Linked DNA regions of Homo sapiens. Each later gene encodes a partner of the first gene's protein in a complex. Each region holds a gene or a part of one and is shown in the gene's direction. Other genes may lie near its edges. The genes, in order: THOC5, THOC7 and THOC1.

The links.
Region 2: the proteins of THOC5 (region 1) and THOC7 are in contact, whole or in part, in a cryo-EM structure (PDB 7APK), measured with the Homo sapiens proteins. Residues at the interface, in NP_001002877.1 of Homo sapiens: Pro48, Asp51, Tyr52, Tyr55, Cys59, Leu62, Gln63, Met66, Ala67, Gln70, Phe95, Lys99, Leu101, Asn102, Ala105, His106, Arg108, Leu109, Gly112, Arg113, Gln115, Thr116, Ala119, Lys120, Val123, Tyr126, His127, Leu130, Leu133, Glu136; in NP_079351.2 of Homo sapiens: Ala21, Asp23, Ile27, Leu30, Val31, Phe34, Tyr50, Met53, Leu54, Leu57, Cys60, Glu61, Met64, Gly65, Thr67, Leu68, Val70, Tyr71, Asn74, Met78, Tyr81, Ile84, Tyr85, Ile88, Glu89, Ser91, Ile92, Ala95, His96, Lys98.
Region 3: the proteins of THOC5 (region 1) and THOC1 are in contact, whole or in part, in a cryo-EM structure (PDB 7APK), measured with the Homo sapiens proteins. Residues at the interface, in NP_001002877.1 of Homo sapiens: Tyr52, Arg113, Lys120, Asp124, His127, Leu128, Gln131, Asn132, Leu134, Tyr135, Glu136, Met138, His139, Thr145, Lys146, Glu149; in NP_005122.2 of Homo sapiens: Glu60, Arg145, Arg146, Leu147, Ser148, Ser150, Gln151, Lys285, Met286, Leu289, Val296, Tyr297, Phe298, Leu302, Ser304, Leu307, Leu310, Gln311, Ser313, Asp314.

What each region holds. Positions count from the first base shown.
Region 1 is NC_000022.11:29,505,299-29,508,826, reverse strand, and holds the end of THOC5 (THO complex subunit 5), read left to right. Parts: intron 1-306; coding exon 307-370; 3' UTR 371-2,948; downstream 2,949-3,528. UniProt on the Homo sapiens protein: Component of the THO subcomplex of the TREX complex which is thought to couple mRNA transcription, processing and nuclear export, and which specifically associates with spliced mRNA and not with unspliced pre-mRNA.
Region 2 is NC_000003.12:63,857,119-63,860,867, reverse strand, and holds part of THOC7 (THO complex subunit 7), read left to right. Parts: exon of another isoform or gene 1-223; intron 224-3,749. UniProt on the Homo sapiens protein: Component of the THO subcomplex of the TREX complex which is thought to couple mRNA transcription, processing and nuclear export, and which specifically associates with spliced mRNA and not with unspliced pre-mRNA.
Region 3 is NC_000018.10:266,295-270,043, reverse strand, and holds the start of THOC1 (THO complex subunit 1), read left to right. Parts: upstream 1-1,996; 5' UTR 1,997-2,024; coding exon 2,025-2,078; intron 2,079-3,749. UniProt on the Homo sapiens protein: Component of the THO subcomplex of the TREX complex which is thought to couple mRNA transcription, processing and nuclear export, and which specifically associates with spliced mRNA and not with unspliced pre-mRNA.

The sequences.
Region 1 (3,528 bases):
GACTCCGTCTCAAAAAATAAAAAAAGGAACAATCCTAAAAAGTGAGGGTGCCTAAAGCTATGTCCCCGAAGTGCCACTGTCAGTGAGGGCCTTTCCAAGTTTGTGTTCACTCATTTGCAAGCACAAAAAGACATTTTTACAAAAATAGTATCGCACCTTATATGTTGTTCTGCCGTATGCTTTTCTCAACAACATTCTGTGTCATGTAACTCTGCCTCTTCTTTTTCCCTTGTGTGAATGAACCATAATTTATTTTATCAGCCTAGAAGGTGTGTTATTAACAACTCCGTTCTCCTATTTCTCTAGGGGTCCTAGCAGGATGAAGCCATTTAAATACAACCATCCTCAGGGATTCTTCAGCCATCGCTGATCTCCCGCGCAGACCGTTGTTTCCCCCAAGGCCTCACCCTGAGCACTGGGCTTCTGCTTTCTGCTCTGGCCCACATGTGACTCTTGATATTCTCCAAAGACACCAGCCAATTAAAAAGCGTCACCTGACCAGTGGCCTTTGTCTGTGGTTCCTGGCAAGGTGGCTTTGCAGTCTGGAAGGGCAGGTGGGAGCTGTGACACAGTGTGAAAAAGCATTTGTAGAGAGACTTTTTCTCAGCAGCCAATAAAAGCAGAGTGGAAAAAGATTCCAATTCTGCAGAGAGATGCTCACCTCTTGTCTACGCACACCCTATTTGTGCTTTGCGGGGTGAGGTCCTCATGATCTTGTATTTATTATCCCAAGTTCCTGCTGTTAAGAGGTGGTAGGAGAAGCCAAAGGCAGCAGAGCACAAAAAGCAAAACTCTTCCCTCCCCACCCGCTCTTCCCATTAGTCCTGTCAGGGTTGCCGATGGACAAATTGTCTCTGATCGTTGGATGTTATAAATGTCTGACAGTGCAGTGCAAACAGAAGACAAACTCAGTTGATCCTTGAACAACTCAGGGGTTAGGGGCACCAACACCCCCTGCCCTGCACAGTTGAAAAATCCGTGTATAACTTTTGACTCCCTAAAAACTTAACTAATAGCCTGCTGTTGACCAGTAGTATGCTATTAGTAGTTACTTACTGCTAACATAGTCAGTACATATTTTCAGTATATATTTTGTATCTTATACACTGTATTCTTACAATACAGTAAACTAGAGAAAAGAAAATGTTATAAGGAAAGTCACAAGGGGGCCTGAGTGCAGTGGCTCACGTCTGTAATCCCAGCACTTTGGGAGGCCAAGGCGGGTGGATCACTTGAGGTCAGGAGTTTGAGACCAGCCTGGCCGACATGGTGAAACCCTGTCTCTACTAAAAACATGGAAATTAGCCAAGCGTGGTGGCGCATGCCTGTAGTCCCAGTTACTCAGGAGGCTGAGGCAGAATTACTTGAACCCATGAGGCAGAGGTTGCAGTAAGCCAAGATCACGCTCCTGCGCTCCGGCTTGGGCGAGAGTGAGACTCCGTCTCAAAAATAAATAAATAAGAAAGCCATAAGGAAGAAAATATATATCTACTATTAAGTAGAAGTGGATCACCATAAAGGTCTTCACATACTGTCTCAGGGTTGAATAGTCTAAGGAAGAGGAGGGGTTGGTCTTGGTGTCTCAGGGATGGCAGAGGCAGAAAAAGTGGGGGAGGTGGAGGGGGAGGCAGGCACCACTGTTATTTTTATTGAACAAAATCTGTGCAGGGACTCATGACTGTAATCCTAGTACTTTGGAAAGCTAAGGCGGGAGGATCCCTTGAGGCCAGGAGTTCAGGTCCAGCCTGGGCAACGTAGTGAGAGACCCTGTATCTACAAAAAATTTAAAAATCAGCCAGGTGTGGTGGTATGCACCAATAGTCCCAGTTACTCAGAAGGCTGAGGTGGGCGGATGACTGGAGTCCAGGAGTTCAAGGTAGCAGTGAGCTATTCATCGTGCCTGTACTGTACTCCAGCCTGGGAAACAATGCGAGTCCCTATCTCTAAAAAATTTTAAAAAAAGAAATCTGCATATAATAGACCCACAGAGTCCAAACTATTGTTCAGAGATCAACTGTACTTCACAGAGAGTAATTCTAAGTCTTACAGGATTTCATGGAGATGGCGAGAGTGGTGTTGGAGAATCAATCACATACAGAGATACAGGACAGTGAGACCAGGTAACATTTGAGGAGAATATTTTTTTTTTATTGAGACAGGGTCTTGCTCTGTTGTCCAGGCTGGAGTGCAGTGGCACGAACACAGCTCACTGCCGCCTCAACCTCTCCTGGGTTCAAGTGATCCTCCTGCCTCAGCCTCCCAAGTAGCTGGGACCACAGGTGTGTGCCACCATTTCTGGCTAATTTTTAAATTTTTTGTAGAGGCGGGATCCCACTATTTTTCCCAGGCTGGTCTCAAACTCCTGGGCTCAAATGATCCTCCCACCTCGGCCTCCCAAAGTGCTAGGATTATAGGCATGAGCCACCACACCCGGCCTGAGTAGAGTCTTTAAGGTAATGACAAAAGTGCCTCAAAATATAATTATTTGATTAAGAGAAGTCTTGGGAAGATAGGTAACAACCTTTAAAATGTTCATAAAATTACATCCTTTGTAATACTCCTGCAAGTCAAAGTAAAGGATGGCATAGACTATTCTTGGACAGTTTTGTCAAAAAGTGTATCTTGACCCCACCATCAGTACTCCATTCTTCATTTTAAAAAATAAGATGGGCTGGGCACAGTGGCTTACGCCTTTAATATCAGTACTTTGGGAGGCTGGTGGGCGGATCACCTGAGATCAGGAGTTCAAGACCAGCCTGGCCAACATGGTGAAACCCCGTCTCTACTAAAAATACAAAAATTAGCTGGGCATGGTGGTGCGCGCCTGTAATCCCAGCCACTCGGGAGGCTGAGGCAGGAGAATTGCTTGAATCCCCGAGGCGGAGGTTGCACTGAGCCGAGATGGTGCCACTGCACCATCTGGACAACAGAGCAAGACTCCGTCTTGGAAAAAAAAAAAAAGATGTAGAAATGTAAAAATATTTGAGAATTATTACATAGTTGCAGATATAGTTTGCTAACTCCAAGAGGAAACACATTTTATTTTTTGTGATTGTCCTGATGAAACTTTATCCCCCCACAACATGCTGTTAAGCTTGGTTCCCATCATAAGCATATTCCCCCTAAGTGGACTTTTACTGATTTTCCATGGATAATGCAGACCTCCAGTATAAAAGCTATTCCTCCAGGTCTCTCTGCCGACCACTGAGTATCCCAGGGATAAGGATTTTAAGAGTAAGAGCTAAGTAATAAATTCCTGCCCCTAGCAGGGCCGTTCATTTTACGGATGAAAACCTGATCCTTGCTGGGCGTGGTGGCTCATGCCTATAATCCAAGCCATTCAGAAGGCTGAGGCAGGAGGATTGCTTGAGCCCAGGAGTTCAAGACCAGCCTGTGTAATATAGTGAGTCCCCATTCAGAAAAAGAAAAGAAACCTGAGCCTAGCAAGGAGAAGAGAATGGTACCTTTGGTGGCTGTTAAATCACCACCGCTACCCTCAGTCCACATCAGTCCTTTGAATTCCAAAGG
Region 2 (3,749 bases), on another chromosome or scaffold:
AGCCATATTATTTTATGCATATTGCTGCTGTCACCCTTAATACGTTATTTATATGCCTTATGCTAGAAAACATTTAAGGCAGTTCACTGTAATGAGAAAATATAAAAATTAAACGGATTAGAAAACAAGACAAAAAGAACATTGAGATTAGGAAAAATAAAGGGAAGTCAGAAGTGGGGTGATCCTCAAAATGCAGGAGGATAAAGTCTAGTACATTAATTAACCAAGCTGTAAGTGACCTGTTTCTCCAGTAGGCCATTCTGAGAGGCAGGACCTCGTCTGCTCTGTGATCTAGTGTTCATGAGAGAAGGCAATCTTAGATGCCCAGGAAAAGCACTTTTTTTTTCTGATTTGAACTAGAGGAAAAGTTTATCATTGAGGTCTTTATAAATGAAAGCCAGTGTCATATCCTTAACCTCTTTTCAGCACTGAAGATCATAGAGCTGTTTTGTAGCACATCCCTTGCTAGGTAAAAGAAGGCTAAATCACAATTTAGAAAGACATTCTAAAGCCAGTAGAGGCTGGGTGTGGTAGCTCACACCTGTAATCAATCTTAGCACTTTGGGATGCTAAGGCAGGAGGATCACGTGAGCCCAGGAGTTTGCGACCATCCTAAGCAACACAGCAAGACATGATCTATACTACAGAATTTTTCAAATTAGCCAGGCGTGTGTGGTGGTGTGCACCTGTAGTCTCAGCTACTCATCTCTACTAAAAATTTTCTTAAATTAGCCAGGTGGAGTGGAACACACCTGTAGGTAGTCCCAGCTACTCAGGAGGCTGAGGCAGGAGGATCACTTGAGCCCAGGAGTTTGAGGTTGCAACGAGCCATGATTGCACCACTGCACTCCAGCCTGTCAACAGTGCTAGACCCTGTCTAAAAATAAATAAATAAAATCAATGGACAATGTGGTTTAGGTGGGTAGTGGGTAGCTCTGCTGATCTGGCTTGATTCAAATCAGGGTTTTTTGATTGAATATCTAGACCATAGAGGAAAGACAAACTACAACTTCTTCAGACAATCCTCTATAAACATGGTTTTTGTCAGCTGAGCTTTTGAAAAAATCAAGCTGAAATGAGTGGTATGTGTGATCCGTCAACAAGTATTTATTGCATACCTTCTAGGCACAATGCGAGGTCCTGGCTACTTTGCAGTGAACTAGACAGAGGAGGGCCCTGGCCCCTGCTTTGGGGAAAGAAGCCATAGTGTGCAATCAAATAAGTAAATAAGATAATTTCTGAAAAGGAATGTAATTAAGTTCTGAGAATGAACTTGATGGAATGAGGACAGAGAGTAATGGGGGAGGGCAGTGATACCTGACAGGTTCAACCACATGAAGAGCCCAGGAAAGTATTCCAGATAGAGACAACAACTAGTGCAAAGGCCCGAGGTGAAAACAAGCTCTGCACCCTTTAGAGGAAATAAGGAAAGCCACTGGGCTGGATCTAGGGACAGGACTGCATCCAGGTGGGCCAAGAGGAGTACGATGCAAAAGGAGGTAAAAGGGAGCTCAGGAGGAGCCTTGCAGGCTTTGGAAAGGAGACTGAATTGTCCTTTGTGGGCATTTAGAAATGATAGGAGGATTGTAAGCAGGAGAGTTAGTGATCCAATTCATCTTTTAGATCATTCTGAGTTGCATAAAAAATGGATTCTAGGAAGGCAAGAATGGAAACAGGGAGTCCAATGCAAAATATTCCAGATGAGAGAAATGTGGGCTTGGATTAGAGCGATGTTAGTGTGGAAGATAGAAGTGGATGCTCTTGATATCTCATTCATCCTCCTGGAAAGCTCTTGGAGGAGTACCAGTACCTGTCCATGGAGCTTACATAAGAGCCAATGTCTTTTACAAATTTGATGTGCCTGTATCACTGTCCCTTCATGTAATCCATTCCTCTGGGTCTGCGTATCCAGTTGGACTGGGAGCTCTTGAAGAAGCAGCCCTTTATTTCCTGCACTCAGTTTGAGGAACTGCCCTGCTTTAGAGTAGCTATAGCTACTAGACTGGATATTTTCACCACTACTGTCATGTTATAAGTGAAAAAGTAGAGGTCTTTGGAAGTTAGTGACTTGCAGTCACACAGGTAGTTTGTGACAAAGCCATTTTCTCTCCTTCCCTTGTTGCCAACTCTAGCAGTCTGGCTAGCTGAAAAACAGTGTGGATGTTGTCACTGTTAATTTAAACTATGTTAACTGTATTTTGTATGTGTTAATTTAAAGGATGCTAAATATTGTTAGTACCCTGATAGAAATCATTTCAGAAGCACTTTTTGCACTACAGAGAACATTAGGTGATATATTGATATGCCAGAGCAACAGATGAGAGATGGAGAAAGGGGTTGGGGTGGAATGTGGCTCTACATTCTATTTAATAAAGCTTGCTGGTTTTGACGGTAGCTTTTTTTTTTAACTTAGAAAAATGTAATGCATGAATATGTACTTGTTGCAATGTGAAATAATGGTTTTTAATATGCCTACGAATAATATGACAGAATAATGGAGCTGCATTATGACTTTCTAATAATGTAATTGTATATATTTTTCTGTGAATGCAGAGGTGAGTAGTAACTCATCTGTGAAAGGAAGATAATAGTACACACTTTGTAGAGTTGTTTCAAGGATGAAACATGATAATATATGTAAAGCACTTTGAAGTTGAGTGACCATTTAATTTATTGTGTAAACCAGGACACTTTTCAGAGTGAAAAGAAACAAATGGGTTGTGTGGTCACCAACTAGGGTGGTATAAATGCTGTGCAAGTGTTTGCTGCTGCTGTTATTCCTATTTCAATTGCTGATCCAATGTTAATTAGACATTTGTGGGCACAGGGTTCTTTTGTTTTTGGGTTTTTTTTTCATTAGTGCCATTGCATTTGCCCACTTTCTTCCATCTTCTGTGGCCCCAACACAGGGATAACTGCTGCAGTTCAACTATGAAATGATGTTTCTTTAGCCAAGATAATTGGTTTTTCAAAGCAAGATGGACATTTCACCTTGACTTTATTAGCACTATACTACTCTAAACATTTAAATAGAGAGAAAAGACAAAGGACCTCAACATGATGTTTTGCATTTATTTTCCTTTTAAAATTTTAAATTTAATTTTGGTGCACGTAATTTACCTTGGCATCAGCAATTTATGTAGACCAGTCAGAAGTATCTTAGGAGAGGTTAATATCTACATGGAGGAATCAAACCATCTTATTGTTCCTTCCACCCACCTTTTATGTGTCTCCTTAATATTGTTGACCTTAAAAATTGTTTTAATGGCTTTGAGCTTTTTGAAAGGAGGGACCAGGTGTTATTTTACCATAAGGAATGTAACACAATGGGCTAATATGTGTGATTCATCTTAATAACATGAGCTGTGGTGGTCTAACGATAAATCTTACAGGAATCTGCATGAACATTTTTTTTACATGGCCTTAGTCTCTCTTCTTGTTCATTTAAAGTAGGTCAAATCAAGCCAGTTTTCTTTGTTGTTGTTAACATATCATAGCTTTATTCAGTAACGGAGTAGAATTTTTAATACAGAGAAAATGAAGTACCTGAGAATGATAAATAAGTTTACCACCCAGTTAACCACTGTTACTACTTCATAAAAAAAGTACTACATGTCAGTAAATTCAAGAAGAAATGCACAATATGAAAAATGAAAACCTTCCCCTCTTTACCTTCCGTAATAATTCCTCTCCCAGAATGATTTTTAATGCCTCTAAAAGGTAAAAGTATCTTCTCTGGAGCCTGACTC
Region 3 (3,749 bases), on another chromosome or scaffold:
GCCTGCAAGGTGGCCATTCTGCAGGCTGGGAAGCATGCCTCCAGCCAAGACCACATACAGACACTTCAGAGGAGGAGTTGGAGTAGGAACTTTATGCTTAACTGGTTGGCTAAACATACATATTCAACAAGTTAGAGGAGCGGCTATGAATATTCATGAAAGTGGTCTTGACACATGCATATTAAACAAATATGCATGTTTAACAGACAATCCATGTTCACTTTGGGGTGGAGACTTAACATTTAAATGTATTTACAGTTTGGTCCTATACATCAAAATATCTTTTCAGGAAGTTACGTAAGCATGCAATCACTACAAATTGGCCAGAACAAGTCCATGGTCAGTGACCTTCTTATCAGGAGAAAGTAACTGAAATCAATAAAAGCTGTAGTTACGGCTGGTGGGAGAGGGTTGTTAGTGTCTGGTGGTCGATGAACTGCAAATTGTTTTAATACTGTGAGGCCAGCGCTTGTTTAGCTGCTAAAGAAAAACCTTGAAGCATAGTGAGAACATAGTTTATTTTTCAAGCGTAGGGATGCATGACTTTTAACCCTTGCTTGGCATGGGCTTAGGTCCTGTTTATACTTTGGTATCTTATTGCCATGGAGTCAATTCCGTCAGTCCTATCATCTCCGTTTTTTTTTTTGAAACAGAGTTTCACTCTTGTCGCCCAGGCTGGAGTGCAATGGCACGATCTCCGCTCACTGCAACCTCCGCCTGCCGGGTTCAAACCATTCTCCTGCCTCGGCCTCCTGAGTAGCTGGGATTACAGGTGCGTGCCACCACGCCCGGCTAATTTTTGTATTTTTAGTAGAGACAGCGTTTCACCATGTTTGCCATACCTCAGGTGATCCACTCCTGACCTCAGGTGACCCACCTGCTTCGGCGTCCCAAAGTGCTGGGATTACAGGCGTAAGCCACCGCGCCTGGCCTCTATTTTAACTTTATGGCCAGTCAGCTATCTCCTCTAAATCACAAAAGGGAGAGGGTATAACCAGGTCCGTCTGACCTCCCATCCCGTTATGACTGGGAACTCAGTTGTTAAGATTTTGCTGGTGTCCCCTTGGCCTCACGGGGGTCTGTTCAGTTGTTGGGGGGCTTAGGATTTTAAATTTACAGACTTCGAAGAAGGGAACAAGATACACGTGTGAGGGAATAAGAGGAAGTTACCCGAGTCTGAGTCAGTGCTTCCTTCTCCACCGTGTAACTCCAACTTAGAGTTACTGCCACTCGGCTTCTATCGGCCACGTCTCTCCTGGGAAGGCAGGCAAGGGACGAAATGGAGGGAGACAAGGTTTTCGCTAGGGAAGCCTCGGCCCAGGACGCAGCGCCACCCGTTTTCCAATCAGCGCCGGGCACTGCATTCCTCCTAGGTCTCTTTCTTTCAGTAGAGACCTTTTAATAATAAATACTACTTACATTGCTTTACAGTTCACACTTGCGGTCATTATTTCAGTGGAGCTTTTCAACAGCTCTGTGAGACAGGTATTATTTCTATTTCGGAGCAGAGAGAACAGCGCCCTTGAGCCACAGGGCTCATACATCCGGAGCCTATCACCACTCCGCATCTTAAGCTCCCGGGATGACCGCGGACTGGCGGCCCAGGACCACTGCTCCAGCTGTTTCCCCAGGTAATCCACCTGCCTTGGGTTACCTTTTAGCGCGGCCCAGTTAGCCGCAACCAGCCACCATTTACCCGCTTTCCCCAAACCAGGAAAACCACAGAAACGCATGTGCGCGGCCAGTCTCTTCCACGCCCGGGAACGCAGAGCTTACAGACCAAGGCCGCCCAAGTCCCCTCACCCCAAAGGCTACCCAAGAACCCCGAGTAGGCTGTTTGGCTGACTCAGGCGCCCAACGCCCACCCGAACTGAGTCGCTAGGGAAACTCCCAACTGCCAGCTCGCCCGACCGGTGTTCACAGGCCACTCTAGCCGGGCTCAGAGAGACCGCAGTCTCGTTGCTCCTGGCTTGACGTCATCGGCAGGCGCCGCAGCGCAGTGGCGGGCACGCGCAGCCGAGAAGATGTCTCCGACGCCGCCGCTCTTCAGTTTGCCCGAAGCGCGGACGCGGTTTACGGTGAGCTGTAGAGGGGAGGGTGCAGGCCTGACCCGGCGCTATGCTTTGTCCTCTTCTCCCTGAAATTACTCGAATTTTGCCCTGGGGTAAAGTGAGACAGAGGTGTGTCCGCCTCAGCGTCCGCTCCGGGCCCCGTCGGAGGTTGAGGGGTAGGGAAAGACGCACTACCCGCCTCTTCTTTGTGGGCTGGGCCGTCCGCCTCCGCCCACCCTCCAGCGGGTCCCCGGACTGCGTGCTGGGCGCCTCGGCTCCCCGCTTGGAGTGCCCACCTGCAGACTACTGCTGGTTGGGTCCATCCTCTCAGCTCGTTTAGTGGGGCAGGTGTCTCGAGAAGGGGAAGGGGAGCTGCTGAAGGGGGAGGGTGGGAGTGGTTTCAGTCCAAAGACCTGGCTCCCGCCCTAGCCTTCTGAGCTACCAAGTGCTTGTTCCCGCCGTCTCTTCACCACCCCTTAACCCACCGTGTCTAACTCCTAAGCGATCGATGAGATCCTAAGCGGGAAAAGGCAGATAGATCACCTTGGGAAGGGTAACCAGATGCTATTTTATTCTTGCTCAATGTGGAAGGGTGGTTTTGAGCATTTGGGAAACACTTGACAGATCACTTTCTCATTTAACTATTAGAGTAACACTGTGAAGTAGGCTAAGTTGGTTATTCCTGGTACATGAGGTAGAAGCTGACACCCCCCAAAAAGTTGTGACTTCAGTGGTTTTTCTGACTTTAGACACTCTGTTCTTTTTATGTTGCTCGTCACAGCAACGTAAGTATGAAGAACACTTTTAAGTTGCCTGACTCTATTCGTCTCTAGCATTTGCACCAACATTTCTCAGATATTCGGCTGTGTTTTGGTAGTTATAGGGATGCCAGGATGAAAATTGTGTGAAAGAAAAATTCATCCTTTGTAGTAAGTAGTTTTCTTGTTTGCAGGGTTATATATATATATATATACATATATATACGTATACGTATAATATATATATACACACACACACAGTGTGAGGTTTTTTTTAAATGGATTATATTTTGTGTATGTCATCATAATCATTTTCTTTGTGTGCGTTTTGCTGCAATCTCTGGTGCTTTGAAAGCCTGCTAAGAGTAACTGTTAGGACTATCCAAGATCATATTGGCGGCCGGGCGCAGTGGCTCACGCCTGTAAATGCAGTACTTCGGGAGGCCGAGGCGGGCGGATCACCTGAGGTCAAGAGTTCAAGGCCAGCCTGGCCAACATGGCAAAGCCCCGTCTCTACTAAAAATACGAAAATTAGCCAGGCGTGGTGGTGGGCGCTGTAATCCCATCTACTTGGGAGGCTGAGGCAGGAGAATCGCTTGAACCCGGACAGCGGAGGTTGCAGTGAGCCAAGATCATGCCAGTGCACAACACCTGGGCAACAGAGGGAGACTCCATCTCAAAAAAAAAAAAAAAAATCATACTAGCCCTGAAAAGGACCATGAAATTGGAGATCATCTAGTTCAGTGTTTCTCAAGCTTCTTGTGAAATGCAGATTCTTGTTCAGTAAGTGTGGAAGGGAGCCTGAGATTTTGCATTTCTACCAGCTTCCTAGGTGATGCCACTGTAGCTGCTGCTGGTAGTAAAAATCTACAAAAACCCTCTTATTTAACTGGTGACGAAAATGAAGCACAAAGAGATAAAGGAACAGGCCCCAAATTAC